2 separate regions of the Homo sapiens genome follow, and region 2 is linked to region 1. A link means that fine-mapping ties the variant in region 1 to the expression of a gene that starts in the linked region. Tissue or cell type: whole blood. Region 1 holds a variant in brackets; the other region holds the start of a gene. All regions are shown on one strand. Distances are between the middles of the regions.

Region 1 (2,734 bases):
TAGGGTGGGGGCAGGGCCAGCAGATCCCAGCTTTTGTCCCTGGCGCCCTCTGGACCCCAGGCTCCTATGCCATGGGGGTGGCAGGCACGGGCCCTCCCCGCAGAGCGTGGCTGACCACAGCCTGGGTCCCCCGGGCCAGGTCCAGGCTGGCAACGGTCACGTGCGGCCGAGGGCTTCACTCCGCTCCGAGGTTCCTTCCCCCCTCCATGGCTGTTTCAGGGGCACAGGGGTCTGCAGGACGCCCAGCACAGCCCGGCCTCCTCTGCTCTGCTGCCCCTGTTGGAGTGGGGCCCAACCCGGCAGGACTGCATTCCCAGAGACCCCATCCCTGAAACCAGGCAGCGGGCTTGGGGCTCAGGCCTGTCCCCAAGGCGGGGCAGGTGCAGCAGGAAGAGGCCTGTGGCCACCACAAGCATAAGAACAGCCCGAAACGCTGATGCCGGAGCCTCGGCCCACGCACCGTGTAGCCCTGGACGTGGCTCCGCGTGGGATGGCACCGCCCGAGGGAAGGCCAAGTGCAAGGGCGTCTGCAGCTGAAAAGAGCAAGTGTCCCAGGGCACCAGAGCCTTGCCCTGCCCCAGCCCCCCGTCGGCGGGGCACACATCCCCAGGCTGGCTCCTCTTCGTTGGGGAGGGCAGGGGGCTGGCCTGCCTGGTGCAGCAGGACAAAAGGCTGCCTGGAATCTACCCTTCCAAACCCTCTGTGGCTCCAGATGTCTGGGGCCTCAGGGAGTGGTTCTCTTGAGACCGGATGGGAGTGTCCCCCTGACCCTGTGTCTGACCTCTGACCCAGGAGGCAGGGTAACAGGAGCCTGGTCTGGTCAGAATGAGACCCGGAGACGGCTCCAGGCGCCAGTCCCTGCTCTACAAGGAGACTGGGGGTGGGCCCTGATAGCGTGGGGGTGGGGGTAGCTAGGCCAGACCCAGCAGCAGGCGGCTGGGCTGGAGCTGCCAGGGAGGGGCTTAAGGCCCGGACATGCCCACGAAACAGCACAGGGAGGCACCTGAGCCAGAGGCTGTGGTCTGGTCCCTGTACCAACTGGAGTGCCCCGTTCCAGCTCAGCTGTGACCTCCGGGGCGTCCACACCCCCCTGGGCCGGGCATAGCAGACACCAGATTGGCCAGCGTGCAGGCGGCTCTGCTGAGCGGGCCGACTGACTGGAGGACCTGGCCCTCTGGAGTCCTGCTGCTGTTGGGGACAGTCCGCCCCAGGCCATCTGCTGCCGGGGACTGTGAGCGAGGGCTCAGCACAGCCCAGCTGGGATTCCATCCACCGGGAAGAGGAGAATGGCCGTGACCAGGCCCAGCTGCTCCAGCCCAGCTCCAGCCCTCACTTTGAGGCGAACCCAGCCAACCGCGGCAGGTCAG[C/T]CCGGTCAGCGCAGGGAACAGCAGGCAAAACAAAGGCCAGAGGTCAGTTTGCCGGGTATGAAGCAGCACTGGCCCCTGGCACGGGGCACCGCCACTGCCAGACCCACCCCACCAGACACAGCAAAACGTGGGGACCACAGCTGAATTACATTTACTGTACAAAGAACGGTTCGGAGAGAACCAGGAATGGCGGAGTGTCTAACAGCAGCGCGGGTAGTGTTGATGCCGTGAATGCAGGACCATCCAGGTCCTCAAAGTCTGTGAGGTTTGTTCATAATCCCAAACAAGGGCCCTGCTGGCAGCAACAGGACAGGTGGGGCCAGGACAGGGAAGCTGGAGCAGGAGGCCAGTGTCTTTGGGGGCTGTGGCAGGGCCGCCTGCCTGGGGTTCCCTTACTCATCTGGTAGTTCATGCAGGCCACGGCCCTCATCTCCCAGGAACGGGCCATGGGGCGAGTCCACTGGTGCCCAGTAACACCCTCCGTGGGACCACCTTGGGAAGCATGTGCCGCGGAGTCCACCACGGGGGGTCCTGGGTCCCGGGAGGGCTCCTTCTGCGTGCTGGCCATGTCGTGCCGCACGGCCTGAGGACAGGAGGTAGAGGTGAGCACCAGTGCTGTGGGCAGGCCCAGGCGATGGTGACCGTGCAGAGGGGCTGCTGGGGCAGGCATGGGCAGAAGCACTGGGTGGAGGAGCGGCCAATGGCTTCAGGAGAGAGGTGGCCGGCCCTGCGTGCCTGGGGCTCAGCATGAGCGCCGGGCTGGTGGGCCTTTGAGGAGGGGCCTAGCCTCCCGAGGCCCCCAGGTGGACGTGGACGTGGACGAGGTGGTTCCAGGCACGTCCCTAAGAAGGTCAGGATGGTTCTGATGCCGTGCAACCTCACAGGAGAGCTGCAGCTGTGGGGACCCCAGGGCCAGCGACAGAAGCTGCCGAGAACAGGAGGCTGCACGCAGGTGCCCGGGGTCTGCACCGCTGCCCATCAAGTATTCCTAAGTCTACAGATAGCTCTGCACTCTCCAGGGTGGGCGAGATGATCTGAGTTTTGAGTGGTCAATGTCCCCGAAGGTGTCACATCACAGCAGGAAGGTTCTCATCCCCACGTGGGGAGGGATTTGGGGAGCAACAAAAATGTGGGCTGCCAGGTGCACCTCCTTTCTCCCCTCTCCTGAGTGCTGCTTGGGCTCTGACCACAGGACCACACCCTCCATCCCGTGGGAGCCAGGGCCCCGGTCACCCAAGCTTCCAGAGGGAGCACCGGCCCTGTCTGCTCCCCCGGCCTCTGGGCAGCCCCGCCACTCGCAGCGCATGAATTCACAGGATGCCTTGCCATCGCGGCCGCGAGTCCCCTCTCGAGGAGTCCCAAGTGCG
Region 2 (2,619 bases), 230 kb after region 1:
CAGAGGCAGAGGCTGCCTGAGATCGCCCCGAGGTTCAGGGAGGCACTGCCCAGCTCAGGGACCACCACCGCAAGGTCCATAGAGGCAGAGCCAGCTCAGGGACCACCTCAAGGTCCAGGGAGGGACAGCCCAGCTCAGCGACCACCCTGAGGTCCACAGAGGCACAGCCCAGCTCAGTGGCCTCAGGGAAGTCTGGAGATCCTGCAAAACTCCAGCCTCACTTTTGACTCCATCCCTTCTGGATGACGACAGACATGGTCTGAAGCCCCGACTTTCCACATGAGGAAGAACCCAGAGCCCACCCTGTGTCTGAGGTGAATGAGTGGCAGGGAACCAGGGAGAAACACACTTTCCCCACCAGGTGAGCCCTGGAAACACGGACAAAAAGGGGCCTGAAGATTGAAGAGGGAAGGTAGCAGGGTTCTGTCCGAGCCAGGAGACGGGGCCTGTGCTGCTGTGGAGTTTCAAGGCCTGTCGCTTCCAGACCCAGGGTCAGCGCTGAGCTCCGCCCCAGCCGTCCTCCTCTGGAGGGGACGCTGCCAGGGAAACAGAAGACGTCCTCACCTTCCTATAGTCCCAGGCTGCTCCAGAGCCAAGCTACCCTCCGGCATCGGGTCCCTGGTTTCCAGAGGAGCCCAGACCCTGTATGTCCCACAGAATCTGGACAGAGCCAAAGGGGCTCCGCCAGGCCAGGAGGAAAAGTTAACCCCAGCAGGCGGCTGAAGCCCACGGGAGGAAGACCCCCTGGTTGGTTTGTTCCCCCAAAACCCAGTTTGCAGGGCGCCTTGTGTAGCCTGGGGCTCTGCTGCGGCTGGTGCGGGCATTGCAGGCGGCGGCTCACTTTTCAGAGCCGATGGAGGGAGCCCTGGGACATGGATCGTCCTGTGAGGTGGCAGCTGGGGGGGCCGGGCAGCGGCGGGGCCGGGGACTTGGGGCCTGACGTCCCAGTCAGATTCTGGCCTAACTTGGCCTTCAGCGAACGCCCCAGCGGAGCGGCTCCCCCCACCCCCACCCCCCGACTCCCTCACCCCCCCACACCCCCACCCCCACCCCCCGACTCCCTCACCCCCCCACACCCCCACCCCCACCCCGGCCGGGAGACCCCCTCCCCGCCCAGTGCTGCAGCCGGCCTCTGCCTTCCTTGCGCTCCCGGGCCCTCGGTCGCCCCGGACCCGCCCAGGCTGCCAACTCGCCGGGCGCCTGCAGCCTGGGGCCTGGGGAGGCGAGAAGGAGCCGCAGAGCCGGACGGGCACTGGAGGGGCGTGCGGGTGCGAGCCGGCGCCTTCCCCAACTCGGACGGACCCCGCAGCCCGCGCCCCGAGGCCTCTGGGGGAGTCGGACCCCAGCCCGCACGTGCGCGCACAAAGGCCGAGCGGCGCGCGCCCCTTCCTCCCCTCCGCGTCCCCGCCGGGGCGCGCGGCCCCACTCACCCGAGCCGTGGCGCACTAGCAGGCTCGGGCCCGGGGCCCGCGGGCCGCAGCGCAGCCCCCGCAGCGCGGAGCGCCAGAAGAGGCCGCCCATGACGCCCGGCCCGCGGGCCGCTGTGAGCGCGAGGAGCGGGCGCGGAGGGCGGTGCCAGCCCGAGACCCGCCCCCGCCCGCCCGGGAGCCCCCCGCCGCCCCGGAGCCCCCCGCCGCCCCGGACCCCCGTGGCCCGGCGCTCACGGGGGAAATGTTCAACGCCAATTTCTGTTAAAAATCAGAAGAAAAAACAAAATAATAATGAATCCTTCTCGAATTGCATTCGTCTTTACACCGACGCAACCGTTAACTATCGTTTTAACGCTTTCCCACGGAGGAAGGCCCACTCGGGAGGCTGAGGCAGGAGGATCGCGTGAGCCCAGGAGATTGAGGCTGCAGTGAGCTGTGACTGCACCGCTGCACTCCAGCCTGAGCAATAGAGCAAGACTCTGTCTCAAAAATAAATTCACGGACCAAAAGGAGGTCTAGAAGCCCTGGTCTGAGCCCCCTCCAATGGAGGGTGAAATTCCCACGTGAGCCCCAGGGCGGGAGAAGGAGGCGCTCCGGAGACGCTGACTCTGCGGCCAGGACGAGTAGGCGGGACTACAGACCCGCGCCACCACAACCAGCTAATATTTTAATTTTTTGTAGAGATGGGGCCTCCCTATGTTGCCCATGCTGGTCTCAAACTCCTGGGATCAAGAAATCCTCCTGCCTTGGCTTCCCAAGGTGCTGGGATTACAGATGTGAGCCTGGTCTGTGAATTTGAATGGGGAAAAATCCGACCTTTATTCTCAAATGGCCTCTGATGTGACTGCATTCCTCTAATTCATTCAATTGCGGATATAAGGAAGAAGCCACATTCATAGTTGCAGGGCCTGTGACTTTGTCACCAACAGAATTCACAGGTACGGTAATATTTGGGTAGATAGCACAGCATGCTACTATTTGAAATGGTTAGGTCTCCCACTGCTAGAACTTACTTAATGAGTCTTGAAAAAGCCTGTTCTTTTTGCTGCTATTGTGAATGGAATTGTTTTCTTATTTGAATTGTCCATTGCAAGTGTATAACAGACAATTGAGGTTTGTTTGTTTTCAGACAGAGTGTCGCTCTTGTTGCCCAGGCTGGAGTGCAATAATGGCATATCTCTGCTCACTG

Evidence for each region. PIP is the estimated chance that this variant, and not a neighbour inherited with it, causes the effect.
Region 2: it holds the start of NME4, and the variant in region 1 is fine-mapped to the expression of NME4 in whole blood (INTERVAL, PIP 0.98).

The regions. Positions count from the first base shown.
Region 1 is chr16:628,034-630,767 of GRCh38, reverse strand. It overlaps RAB40C (RAB40C, member RAS oncogene family), which reads right to left. Exons shown (of 6, transcript NM_021168.5): 6 at 1,500-2,734. Among named protein-coding and RNA genes, the nearest start is that of WFIKKN1, 1.6 kb to the left of the region's middle. RefSeq lists enhancers at 1-424, 605-899, 425-1,158, 2,628-2,734. The variant C/T (reference allele first, on the strand shown) is at 1,368.
Region 2 is chr16:396,125-398,743 of GRCh38, reverse strand. NME4 (NME/NM23 nucleoside diphosphate kinase 4) reads right to left here and starts at 1,545. Exons shown (of 5, transcript NM_005009.3): 1 at 1,431-1,545. The coding sequence starts at 1,521. RefSeq lists silencers at 915-984, 1,125-1,614 and an enhancer at 1,905-1,954.